Regions from separate parts of the Homo sapiens genome. Here region 1 is linked to region 2. Evidence: fine-mapped expression QTL. Tissue or cell type: whole blood. Region 2 holds a variant in brackets; the other region holds the start of a gene. All regions are shown on one strand. Distances are between the middles of the regions.

Evidence for each region. PIP is the estimated chance that this variant, and not a neighbour inherited with it, causes the effect.
Region 1: DCAF12 starts here. The variant in region 2 is fine-mapped to the expression of DCAF12 in whole blood (TOPMed, PIP above 0.99).

Annotation. Positions count from the first base shown.
Region 1 is chr9:34,123,283-34,129,527 of GRCh38, reverse strand. DCAF12 (DDB1 and CUL4 associated factor 12) reads left to right here and starts at 2,830. Exons shown (of 9, transcript NM_015397.4): 1 at 2,830-3,174; 2 at 4,251-4,505. The coding sequence starts at 3,097. RefSeq lists a silencer at 3,096-3,145 and an enhancer at 2,580-3,281.
Region 2 is chr9:34,147,596-34,155,352 of GRCh38, reverse strand. No RefSeq gene overlaps it. Among named protein-coding and RNA genes, the nearest start is that of DCAF12, 25 kb to the right of the region's middle. The variant G/A (reference allele first, on the strand shown) is at 3,888.

The DNA of each region.
Region 1 (6,245 bases), 25 kb after region 2:
TTTGTCAAGGTGAAATAAAATATATAGATGAATCTCTAAAATTAAAATGTTTTGTGAAGCAGGAATTGTAATTCAGGGCACACGCAGACTGGGTGGTCTTTGCCATGTCTGCAGAACAAAGAGAAGGTTGGAAGTTTTGTAAAAAGGAAGTGTTATGTATTGCTCTTCAAGAAAGTTCACTGGCACTAGTAAGGTTTTGGAGAGCTGGCAAGTTTTGATTGGTAAGTGAAGGCAATAAGTAAAACTATTTCTGAGAGTCACAGTAGGTTGTTTTAACAGCTATTAGATAAAACTGCTTTCAGATTATAGCACGCAGTTTCAGCAGTGAGGCTCACTAAGAATGCCATTCTTGGAGTAGTTACATGCCCTGAGTACTTTTTCCCCCAGCCACTCTACTACTTTATTATTGTTATCATTATTATTTTATTATTTTATTTTTTACACAGGGTCTTGCTCTGTCACCCTGGCTGGAGTCCAGTGGCATGATCTCAGCTCACTGCAACCCAGCTACTCAGGAGGCTGGTCTCGAACTCCTGACCTCAGGTGATTGGCCCAACTCGGCCTCCCAGTGTGCTGGGATTACAGGCGTGAGCCACCGCACCTGGCCTGCAGTCTTTTAAAGGCAATTGTCAATTAAATTTCCAAAATGGACTTTCATTCTGTTATTTGAATAGAAATGGTGAGCTCTTGGCCAGCCGTGGTGGCTCATGCCTGTAATCCTAGCACTTTGGGAGGCCGAAGTGGGCGGATCACCTGAGGTCAGGATTTTGAGACCAGCCTGGCCAACATGGCGAAACCCCATCTCTACTGAAAATACAAAAATTAGTGGGCAACCATCCTGGCTAACATGGTGAAACCCCGTCTCTACTAAAAATACAAAAATTAGTGGGCAACCATCCTGGCTAACATGGTGAAACCCCGTCTCTACTAAAAATACAAAAAATTAGCCAGGCGTGGTGGCGGGCGCCTGTAGTCTCAGCTATTCGGGAAGCTGAGCCAGGAGAATGGCGTGAACCCAGGAGGCGGAGCCTGCAGTGAGCCGAGATCGCACCACTGCACTCCATCCTGGGCGACAGAGCGAGACTCCGTCTCAAAAAAGAAAAAAAAAAATTAGCTGGGCAACGTGGCGAGCACCTGTAATCTGAGCTACTCAGGAGGCTGAGGTAGGAGAATCACTTGAACCCAGGAGGCAGAGGTTGCAGTGAGCCGAGATCGTGCCACTGCACTCCAGCCTAGGCTACAGAGTGAGACTCCATCTCAAAAAAAAAAAAAGAAAAGAAATCGCGAGCTCTGCTATAAGGTACATTTGGGGATGGTTCCTAGGTTGTGAAGATGAAGTAAAGGAACTTTGAGAAAGAGACTGCAGCAGTGCCCAGTGTGCCCCTCTTGGCACTGACAGCCCAATCTGAGCCTAGAGATTCTCAAAGGATTCCAGACTCTTGCCCAGGGGCTCTTGGGTCATCCAGAGCATTGCGGGGCAAGACAGAATTAGAACAGACTCAAAAAAGAAAGCTGACCCACTCCTGACCCACTCACTATGTGCATATCTCTAAAGGGACAGGCCTGACCAAATAAGATGGAGCTGCCTTTCGCAAGACATTAGGGGTTAGTGGTAGTGCCGACTTGGGATGGCAGGAGACCCTGCTTCAATCTGGTCTTTGATTCGGCTTGGAAAACAAATCCAAATCTCCTTGTTGACAGAACTTGAGATGGTCCAACAGAGCTCCTTGGAGGTATGAGGCCTGAGGCCTGAAGCCTGAAGTGACCAGCAGGTAACTGGGCACCACAGCCTGAGGCCAATCAGCCCCAAGCAAGAGCATCCTGCTTCCTCAGAGGGTTTGTTTGCTTGAGGAAAGCGAAGGCTGGCAGTCATATTCCTTCAGGATCTTCCAAAAATGTTGGCAAGGGTGATCCTGATGAAGCCCCCTTGTTTGGAGGCCAATGCCAGCTCTAACTGGACTGGCAAGCCAAAAATGACCACTCTCTTTCCTGTAGTTCAGAATTCCCGACCTGCCCTAATGGAGACGCAACCTGAATCCAAGAGTGAGGCAGGCAGCTACAGATAAGTTTACAGCGTGATGACTACTTCATAAAGCACAAAAGACCATGTGGTTTAGATGGCAGGTCATGGAAATCTAAAGGGAATGGTGAAGTTGCACCGTAAGGGGAAGGTGACTGAGGAGCTGAAACTGACTGAGGGGCTGAAGCATTTCGGACAGGAGAAAGGATCAGGAGGAGACAGAGCGGAGAATGGAGCCTCAGGGCTACCCAGCGGTGGGAAGAGGGTAGCCAGAGACTCGTAGGGCGGCCTGGGTTGGTTGTGCTGGGCAGGTTCTCAGTGGTGGGAAAGTCTGGCCACACTGCCCTGACTTCCTGACTGGACTTCACCTCGAGGGTGGGAGCGGTTCCTGCCCCCCACCCCCCCACCCCCCTGTCCAGCCCTTGGAGCCAGGGCACGGTTTGTGACAGATTCAGGGAAACGTTTGGTGCCAGATGGGAGGTAACCGGGTTAAGGCCTGCACTAGGGAGGATTCCTTCCCCCAGCAGCACTGGTGGTCCTCACTTCCGGGTGCCTGCGGATAGGCGGGCTGGGGTCGGAGGTCGGCGGCCAGAAGCCAGATTCCCTTGGCCCCAGCTCGTCCACTTCCATCCAGCAGTAGCCAAACAACCGTTGAAAATGGCCTGGCGGCGGCCGGGAAACACCAGAGAACTATCTTCCAACCCCTAGATCCCGCCCATCTCGTTCCGGCGGTGTTTCCGTGGCGACGCTATCCGAAGTGCGGCTGCGCAAGGGTGACGGCGCGCGAGCAAGGGGGAGGGGGTGTTTTGGTTCTAGCCGCTCGCCGTCCTTGCAGGCTCTGCCGTCGGAAAGCCGCTCATTCTCGCTTCCCCTTCCCTTTCCCGGCTCAAGTCCTTCCTCTCTCTTTCCTTTCTTTCCGCCTATCTTTTTTCTGCTGCCGCTCCGGGTCCGGGCCATTTTCCGGGCCGGGCGCACTAAGGTGCGCGGCCCCGGGGCCCAGTATATGACCCGCCGTCCTGCTATCCTTCGCTTCCCCCGCCCCATGTGGCTGCGGGGCCGCGGCGGCGCTGCCCACTATGGCCCGGAAAGTAGTTAGCAGGAAGCGGAAAGCGCCCGCCTCGCCGGGAGCTGGGAGCGACGCTCAGGGCCCGCAGGTGAGGGTTGAGAGGCCGGCACCTGGGTGGTGAGGCTGAGGAACCAAGATGGGCTTAGGGTCCGCAGATCCTGCGACGGGAATCGGGGTCCAGGGTCTGCAGTCAGAGGCAAAACAGGAATGGGTTCAGGGCCTATAGGGTCAGGACTGGACCCTCGTTAACTGGAGGGCAGATAGGCCAGGGCGGTGAGGAGCCAAAGGGGAACTCAGGAATGGGACATAATCCGCGGGAGGCCTGCATTCGTGGATAGGGCTTGAAAAGAAACCAGAATCTTGGCTTTGGAGGAAGGGGAAACCGAAGTTAAGGGAATCGGAAACAAACTCTGGTAGAGTGAACTCTACCTTCCATGGGCCCTAGGAAGCTGGGATGATTGCGTCCCTCCTGGAAGAAGGAAGTAGTCTCCCTATATGTATACCCAACCCTGAGCTGGGCCTTTCGGCGTTTGGACCCCAAAAGAAACAACAGTTCCCAGGTATCATCTCTATGCCGCCCCCTTTGGAGGGGAAGGCCTTCTTGGACATAGATATGGCCTCTGATTTCCCGGGGGCCTACTACCCCGTTGGCGGTTGATTTTTCGAATTCTGCAACTGCCTGGAGCGCGGGCATGATGACAGAGGAACGGTCATTGATGATGCATCCCTGGAAGACCTGGGAGCCAGGTCTGGCTCCTTGGACTGTATCTTCCGTGCTCCAGTGGGAGTACAGACTGAGAGGGAGAAGGGGGCTGGGTAGAGATGCAGCCCATGTCGGTATGGGAATCACTCTACCTCTCATTTCCTTCAATCTTTCACTCCTAAAATGTCTAGTAAACCTTTTAGTCTGTTCTATTCTGCATTCATTCCCTTGACTTTCAGCCCTTGTAATTCACATTGGTAAGTTTGACTGTGAGCAACATCTTTTTAATGTTGGAAGAGTTAAACGACTTTCTGGATTGAGATTCTTGTTCTCTTGTGTTTGTATTTGTGTTGTTTGTAAATTCTGCAGTATGAGTTATGAGTTGGTGATTTCTGTAATACAGTAGGATCTGTTCTGAAGAAGAGTAGCCAAAGCCCTGATTTCTAATGTTGTTTCCACAGTTTGGCTGGGATCACTCGCTTCACAAAAGGAAAAGACTTCCTCCTGTGAAGAGATCCTTAGTATACTACTTGAAGAACCGGGAAGTCAGGCTACAGAATGAAACCAGCTACTCTCGAGTGTTGCATGGTTATGCAGCACAGCAACTTCCCAGTCTCCTGAAGGAGAGAGAGTTTCACCTTGGGACCCTTAATAAAGTGTTTGCATCTCAGTGGTTGAATCATAGGCAAGTGGTGTGTGGCACAAAATGCAACACGGTAAGTGCCTGGGGGGATGTGACCTCTCTCCTAGGTCGTGGATATATTGCTCCACTTGCTCTAGAACCTCTGCTAGTTTTCCCGTCTGTTTCTTTTAGGAGGGACTTGCCTTACTCTCCTTTCCATTCTTTCCCGTTGGTGACTTCTTCCTCTTTTCGTGTTCCTTTTTTCACTCATACATTTCTTTTCTGATAAGTCCTCAAAGGAGTGTATTTCTTCAGGCCCTCTCTGGATGTGCTGCTTCTAGAGGGTTGTTTGTTTGTTTGTTTGTTTTTGCCTCATATTTTTATGCTGGTTTTTAAGTCATAGGCCTCAAAGGAAAGATTTAAGAAATAATGATGCTTAGAGCATCATTCAGGATACATAATAGTGAAAACAGCCTAAGAACGTATGTCGAAGTATTTAAAATAGCACACTTGGCTGTTTTTTAGTGAACAGAATCTAAAAATGTATAAACTGAAATATGAGAAATACATGAACTGTTTCCTATAAGGAAGGCAGGGAATGTGTGTCTGGTAGTATATTTCAGGGTATAAGCATTAGCTCTTTGGAAAGTAGCCTTTTTAAGAGTGAATAGAAAGACAGTTATAAATGAATGAAGTGAAAAATTTCTCAGTAAGCTTTGTAACCAACCCAATTATAGGCCAGGATAAAATAAGTCAAAGAGCAGAAACGTTTGGAATAGAGTCCACGAATAGCATGATGTCACAAGACTGGCAAATGAAAAGAGGCAGGGCCTAGGGCCTAGGGGTGGGAAATGATTACGCCCAGCCCTCCCTCGGTTTTCACCTCCCCTGTGTGAATGGACAAGTAATGTCATAATGTGTGAGTAAATTGACCCTGGAATGAAACACATTTTGGATCATTAAAAGAGAGAAGATTGCTCTAGATCAAGAAAGTCTTAAGTACTAGGAGAAGTGTCTGTTTATAAAGGACATAGGCAAAAATTTAAACAGTTTTAAGGAAGGAAATAATACCATGGTGGTTGGTCTGTTTATAAAGGACATAGGCAAAAATTTAAACAGTTTTGAGGAAGGAAATAATACCATGGTGGTTGGGGCCAACCTTTCGTTTCCTCTTCTGTTGAGGAGTCGCTTGTCTTACCCAGAAGCCTTTCAAAACTAAGTGGTGGCAACGGGCCTCCACAGAACTTCCTTTTCTTGGTCTCTCCAGCTGCCCACTCGTGGTTAAGAACTGTCATCCTTGTCACTTGGAGTAGAAAAAGAGTCTCCTGCTTGGAAGAGTTCATTCCACTCCCCGCACGTGCATCATAGTGTTTAGCCTAGCAAATATTACTGAATTGTAAACTGAATTAATCATCATAGCCTCTTGCTTGTTGAATTTATTGACACTATTTTGAAGGCGAGCATAATAAGTAATAATTTAACCTACTCTTAATTCCTACCTCTTTCTGTCTTCCTAATCCTCATAACCTAGTGTTTGGGGCAAGGGGAGCTGTTTTCATTTTATAGTTAGTATTTGTTTGTTTTTGCTTAGCTTCCAGAACCAAAGCAGGGAACTAGGAATAGTGCTCTTCTCTGAACTTTGTGACATTGGGCAAATGATTCCCTTATTTGTGCTTTTGTTTTTGCATCTGCAAAATGGGAGTGATAATATCTGGTGCTAAGGTGTCTGCATGCATCTGGGAAATATTCTGAGTGAGCAATATCTTACTTATTTAAAAGTACTAGTAGCGGTAAAAATGATTTCCATAACCTTTTCCCACAATTTGAAGAGAGG
Region 2 (7,757 bases):
GGGCAAAAGAATGAGACTCCATCTCAAAAAGAAAAAAAAGCCAGGCACGGTGGCTCACACTTGTAATCCCAGCACTTTGGGGGGCCAAGGCGGGCAGATCACAAGGTCAAGAGATCGAGACCATCCTGGCCAACATGGTGAAACCCCGTCTCTACTAAAAATACAAAAATTAGCTGGGTGTGGTGGCGTGCACCTGTAGTCCCAGCTACTTGGGAGGCTGAAGCAGGAGAATCACTTGCAGTAAGCCAAGATCGCGCCACTGCACTCCAGCCTAGTGACAGAGTGAGACTCCGTCTCAAAAAAAAAAAAAAAAAAGTCTAAAAAAACCTCTTTTACATTAAAAGAGGCTTAAGGAACATAGCACCTGGATTCTAAGATTTGAAGTGTCATCTGTGGTTGGATCCTAGTTTGGACAGAATGCATGTATAAGTAATTTTTGGTACAGTTGGAGAAATTTGAGTAGAAATTAGGAATTAAATCTTTTTGACTATGTAATTTACGAGAGTTAAGAATGTCTACAGTTATTTTAAAACACTTCAGCATAAAAAACTTGAAAGGGAAAAAAATCATTGACTAAAATCCATAGACTAACATGACTTGAACTGACTAAAATTAAAAAGAAATGTTGACTTGTTTCTAAAGCAATTACCGCTTTTCTAAAATCATTACAATGTTAAATTTAATTTTTTAGAATTATTGGTTAAAAAATTTTTAAAGAATAAAAAATAAAGTAAATGAAATTATTGGTTTAAGCTGTGTGCAGCGGCACAAGTCAGTAGTTTCAGCTACTTGGGAGGCTGAGGTGGAAGGACTGCTTGAGACAAGGAATTCAAGGCTGCAGTGTTCCATAATCATACCTGTGAAAAGCCACTACACTCTAGGCTGGGTAACATAGTGAAACCCTGTATCTAAAATAAATTAATTTTAAAAAGTAAAAGACAAGAACCAGGTAGCTACAGAGATCTAGATGGCAAAAACTATTAGATAGTCTTTTCAGAATGACACCTGGGATGAATCAGCTCCAGCCATTTTCCATCTCCATTTCACCCCCAAAAGGATTCGAATTACAGGCAACAAGGGTCTGGCTAGCCTAACTTGGGTAATATGACCACTTGGCTGGAGAAGTAGGGAATCTTGACTGACAGTTTTAGCATTAGAGTGTGCAGAAGAGGAAAGGCACTTCCCTAAAGAAAAAATCAAATTATGCTACCAGAAAAAGGAAAAATTAGATTCTAGAATAGGCAAAAAAAAAAAAAAAAATAGATTTCACAACTTCACATGTGTTTGGCATACACATACATCATTTCATTTACTCTTCATAATAACCCTATGTAGTAGGTATTAACATCTCGGAGAAAGGCTCAGAGAGGTTCTGTAACTTATCCAAGATCACAAAGCAACTTGGCAGCATAGCCAGCATTTGAACTCAGTTCAAAATCCTACTTTCAAAACCCATGCTTTTTCTGTTACACCATGTGTGTAGTAGGAAAAATAAACTAAACGAACTGTTTTCTCCTACTATACTCTTAACATAGAACACTTCTGTAACAAGATGTGTGGGGTTTTTTTCTCCTGTACACCAGGCAGTTCTCCAGTGGACACCAACTGGGTGTCATATAATTCAGTTCAATTCTGACACTATCTACATGAAGTTAGAATTAGATCCCACACCTTAAGGGCTCAGTCCCACCAGACTGCCCTGCTCCTCAGATGCCAGTTGCAAGTTTGGGCCTCCAGAACTTCTGGCTATAAATTGGGAGTTCCCATGACTCCCTCCTACTTAACTTGCTAGGGAGGCTCACAGAACTCAGGGAAACATTTTATTACATCTATCGGTTTATTACAAAGGATATTACAAAGGGTACAGATGGACAGACACATGAAGAGATACATAGGACAAGGTCTTGAAAGGTCCTGAGCACGGGTGTTTCTGTCCCTGTGGAGTTGGTATGTACCATCCTCCCAGCACATGGATGTGTTCCCCAACCCAAAAACTGTACCTTTGGTTTTGTTGTTGTTGTTGTTGTTGTTGTTTTGAGACGTAGTCTTGCTCTGTCGCCCAGGCTGCAGTGCAGTGGCATGATCTCGGCTCACTGCAACCTCCGCCTCCCGGGTTCAAGCAATTCTCCTGCCTCAGCCTCCCAAGTAGCTGGGACTGCAGGCATGCAACACCATGCTCAGCTAATTTTTGTATTTTTAGTAGGGATGGGATTCACTATGTTGGCCAGGATGGTCTCAATCTCCTAACCTCATGATCCGCCTGCCTCGGCCTCCCACAGTGCAGGGATTACAGGAGTGAGCCACCACACCCGGCCGGGATTTTTTTTCTTTTGAGATGGAGTCTTGCTCTTGTAGCACAAGCTGGAGTGCAATGGCGCGATCTCGGCTCACTGCAACCTCCGCCTCCCGGGTTCAAGTGATTCTCCTGCCTCAGCCTCCTGAGTAACTGGGATTACAGACACCTGCCACCACGCATGGCTAATTTTTTTTTTTTTTTTTGAGACGGAGTCTCGCTCTGTTGCCCAAGCTGGAGTGCAGTGGTGCAATCTTGGCTCACTGCAACCTCCACCTCTCGGGTTCAAGTGATTCTCCTGCCTCACCCTCCTGAGTAACTGGGACTACAGACTCACACCACCACACCCAGCTAATTTTATTTTTCTGTTTTTTGCTATTTTTAGTAGAGACAGGGTTTAGTAGCGATATGTTGTCCAGGCTAGTCTAGAACTCCTGACCTCAAGTGATCTGCCCACCTTGGCCTCCCAAAGTGTTGGGATTACAGGCGTGAGCCACTGTGCCTGGCCATGACTGATTATTAATGCCATTTCCAGCCCTCTCTCCTCTCCAGAAAATGGGAGGTAAGGGTAAAAGTTCCAAGCTTCAAATTATGACTTGGTCTTTCTGGTGGTTAGCCCCCATCCAGGAGCTCACAGAGTTGCTTCAGCACAAAATGTACTTCTATCAACTGAAATTACAAGAGACTTAGGAGCTCTGTATCAGAAGCTCCAATCTCTCAGAAAATTATACAGTTCTTAGAAGCTCTGTGTCAGACAGGAACCATGGTCAAAGACCAATTTGCATATTTCTTATTATTTTACACCATGCCATTAGGCAAGGCAGACAATTACATTTCTTCTATTCTTCAGTTTCCCAATCAGTAGAAAGAAGTAACAACTTGCTCTGGGTCTCCTGAGTAGCTTGGATCTCATAGCTAACTAACAGGTTTGCAGAGCAGCCAGAGCTCCCTTGGAAGTGACTTCCTATTTCCTTAATTTTTCTGACATTGATTAGAAGGGGAAAAAAAGGAAAAAAAATGAAATGCATAATATTAACGACTTTTAAAATACTTCTTTTGTTCCAAGCGTAGTATTTTATATGTCTCTGTGCATTGAATTCTCTTAATAGTTCTGTAAGGAACACAACATTATTAACCCCAATTTGCAACGAAGGAAACACGTTTAGAGAGTGGAAGTTATTACTCAGGATCACTGGCTTTCAACCCAAGTCGGTCTGACTCCAAAACTGGGTGCTCCAAACAACAGCACCCCACTACCCACTCTCCTGACCTTTTTGCCACTGAGGCCCAAAGATGCCTTCCCTTCTTGATGAGAGAAGGGGTAGTCTCAGTCTCCTCACCTACATAATAAAGGAGTCAGAATCACTTCTCCCCCAAGGCCCCTTTACCTCTGACTGCTGCTGCTACTGGCAAGGCCAAGAGCTGAGTTCTGTGCTGATCACAGAGAAGAGCAAGGCCTCACTGAATTCATGGACTTTATGTCCCAACGGGAGCTCTCAACTGAGGTACATGACTTACTCCGGCAAAGAAGGGGCACTCTGGATGTCTGCAGATAAGGAGGTGGGCTGCAGATCAGGCAGAGAAATTGCTGGGT[G/A]GAATCGATAATGATAGACAAGAAAAAGACATTGATAAGAAAAGCGAGCCACTTTTTGAGGCAACCTTTTTCTTTTTCTCCTCTGGCCCTCATCTTTAGCTCTCTTTTATTTGTCTCTCAGATTCTTCAGAGAGTTGAGGAGGGGTAGATGAAATTGAAGGGAAATTGCTGCTCAATGGCTAACAATAAAAGGATGCAGGACGGTCACGCCTGTAATCCCAACACTTTGGGAGGCTGAGGCGGGTGGATCACAAGGTCAGGAGATTGAGACCATCCCGGCTAACACAGTGAAACCCTGTCTCCACTAAAAATACAAAAATTAGCTGAGCGTGGTGCTGGGCGCCTGTAGTCCCAGCTACTTGGGAGGCTGAAGCAGGAGAATGGCGTGAACCCGGGATGTGGAGGTTACAGTGAGCCGATATCGCGCCACCGCACTCCAGCCTGGGCGACAGAGCGAGACTCCGTCTCAAAAAAAAAAAATAAAAATAAAAATAATTGGATACAATAACTTAAATCAACTTTCTCCTCTTCCCAAACAGCCTGTAATAAGTCTGTCTCATTCTAGACAGTAAATAGGAAACTGAAAAACCAATTTTTGCTTGTGGCTTTTCATTATAGAGAATAATTTTTGTTGCTGTTGTTGTTGTTGTTTTTGAGTCTCACTGTGTTGCCCAGGCTGGAGTGCAGTGGCATGATCTTGGCTCACTGCAACCTCTGACGCCTGGGTTCAAGAGATTCTCCAGCCTCAGCCTCCCATGTAGCTGTGATTACAGGCATGTGCCACCACACCCGGCTAATTTTTGTATTTCTTTTAGTACAGTTGAGGTTTTACCATGTTGGCCAGGCTGGTCTCAAACTCCTGACCTCAAGTGATCCGCCCACCTCAGCCTCCCAAAATGCTGGGATTACAGGCGTGATCCACTGCACCCAGCCAAGAATAAATTTTAACTGGATAAACATGCCCTCTTTACTAGAATTCTGCTATAATGTCATTAACCTGTATTTAAGCATAAGAAAAATACTCCCATGCTCACCCTGATGACTCAGCCTTGAACTCAAGTCAGGTCTGCTGAAGGGAGATAAAACTGCAAAAGTCTCCATGGTGAGCATGGGGGGCACTTTACTCCTTCAGCCACAGTAGGTTTCCGCCCAGATGCAGCTCTTGGAAATTGGCTGGTGACCACTGGTGGCTGATGTCAAATGGTCCTCTGTGATTGTCCGTCCCCAGAGTATCAGGGGCACAGCTGTGTGGGGAGGATTTCTGTCTAGAGCTCCATCTCCCAGTCCTACTCTCTGACAAAAGTGATCCCATAGCCAATTGGTAGGGGATGAGGAGTAGGAAAGCCTGGAGAAAAGGGGCTTTGGCAGAGCACCACATGGTTCTCTGGGCAGAGCAGGGACTCCTGCATCAAAGCAGGGCACAGATGGTCTTCCAAGTAATTAGAGAAATTAAATCCCTGGCATATTTTAATCCCTGTACAGCTAGACTGCTAAAAAAGGAAGGAAGGAAAAGGAAAGGAAAAAGAAAAGGAAAAGGAAAAAAAATTGACAATACTTGGTATTGGCTAGGATGTGGGGAAATGGGCACTCTCATTTACAAGGAAAATGTAAAAATGTAAATTAGAATTTTTTTTTTTGAGACGTTGTCTCAATCTGTCACCCAGCCTGAAGTACAGTGGCGCAACCTCGGCTCCTTGCAATCTCCGCCTCCTGGGTTCAAGCGATTCTCCTGCCTCAGCCTCTGGAGTAGCTGGGATTACAGACAGCCATCACCACACCCAGGTAATTTTTTTGTATTTTTAGTAGTGACGGGACGGGGCTTCACCATGTTATCCAGGCTGGTCTCAAACGCCTTACCTCAAGTGATCTGCCTGCCTTGGCCTCCCAAAATGCTGGGATTACAGGCATGAGCCACTATGCCCGGCCATAAATTAGTATCTTTAGAGGACAATATGGCAGTATCTTCTCCACTCCACTCCAAGTTTCAAAACAGAACCAGGCCAGGAACGGTGGCTCACACCTGTAATCCCAGCACTTTGGGAGGCCGAGGTGGGAGGATCACTTGAGGTCAGGAGTTCAAGACCAGCCTGGCCAACATGGTGAAACCTTATCTCTACTAAACAAAAAAACAAAAAAACAAAAAAATTAGCTGGGCATGGTGGTGTGCACCTAAAATTCCAGCTACTCAGGCGGTTGAGGCACAAGAATCACTTGAACCTGGGAGGTGGAGGTTGCAGTGAACCAAGATTGTGCCACTGCACTCTAGCCTGAGCGACAGAGTGAGACTCTGTCTCAAAAAAAAAAAAAAAAAAAAAAAGGAAACAAACAAACAAACAAAAAAACACGCCATGAAAAGGAAGAGAGGTCTTCCTAGATCATATATCCATTTGACAGATAAGGAAACCAAGGTTCAGATATATTCCCCAGATTTGTTCAGAGTCTCCCTGTTAGTATGTGCCAGAGACCCTAAATGTGGATGGACACGGTGGCTCACACCTGTAATCTCAGCACTTTGGGAGGCCCAGGCAGGAGAATTTCTTGAGCAGAGGAGTTCAAGACCAGCTTGGCAACATAGTAAGACTCCCATTTCTACAAAAAATACAAAAAAATTTTAGCTGGGCATGGTGGTGTGCACCTGTAGTCACAGCTACTGGGGAGGCTAAGCAGGACGATCCCTTGAGCCCAGGAGGTAGAAGCTGCAGTGAGCTGTGATGTGCCACCGCCCTCTAGCCTGGGCTATAGAGTGGAACCCTGTCAATGCCAACAAACTTAAACCCCAATTGATGCCTTTTTTTCTTTTCTTTTTTTTTTTTTTTTTTTTTTTTGAGATGGAGTCTCACTCTGTTGCCCAGCCTGGAGTGCAGTGGTGCGATATCAGCTCAATGCAAGCTCCGCCTCCTGGGTTCACGCCATTCTCCTGCCTCAGCCTCCTGAGTAGCTGGGACTACAGGCGCCCGCCACCACACCTGGATAAATTTTTTTTTTATTTTTGGTAGAGACAGGATTTCACCATGTTAGCCAGGATGGTCTTGATCTCCTGACCTTGTGATCTGCCCGCCTCGGCCTCCCAAAGTGCTGGGATTACAGGTGTGAGCCACCACGCCCGGCCTGCCTTTTTTTCTTACAGCAAAATAAAACACAAAGGAGGGACCTTCTTGCTAGAAGGGACCATCAATACTTTCTGGAATAAGATGAAACTTAATTACATTAATCAAATTCTGGGTAGGCATATCATCTGCCAAAATGTCATTTAGAGAGCTGACAAATAGTTTTTATATCCCCTGTGGATTAGTCAAAACGTATTTGGTTTCCAATGACAGAAGCTCTACTCAAACTGAAGGAGCTTCCCAGACAGTGTTATCAGGATTGGCTTCTATCTCTTGGGTCTATGTTTCTCAGTGTTGACTTCATTCTTAGACAGGCTCCCCTACCGAATGGCAAGCTGATACCAGCAGCTCCAGCCTTACATTCTTCTAGTATAGTAGCCCCAGCATTATGGAGCTTTGTTCCTAATAGTTCCAGCTTTGGAAAGAACTAGATTACATATCCAATCCTAGAGTAATGGCCAGGTCGTCCCCAGTCAAACCACATAGCCTGAAATTAAGAGTATAATCAGGATTCTCTATCAAAAGAAGGGTGCGCAGATACCAGGAAGGCCAAAACAATAGTTATCCATTCCACCCTGTAAGGGAATGTAAACAAGGAAGAAATTTTGATGGAAAAGGGAGCATAAAGCATTTGTGATCTCCACATTTAAGACTTCCTCAAAATATCCTTTTATGGAAAGATACAAAGCTTCCCAAGGACAACACAGCCCCTCTATTCCCTTCAAATACGATTGTACAAAGAAAGTAATACCCTTCTGCCTAC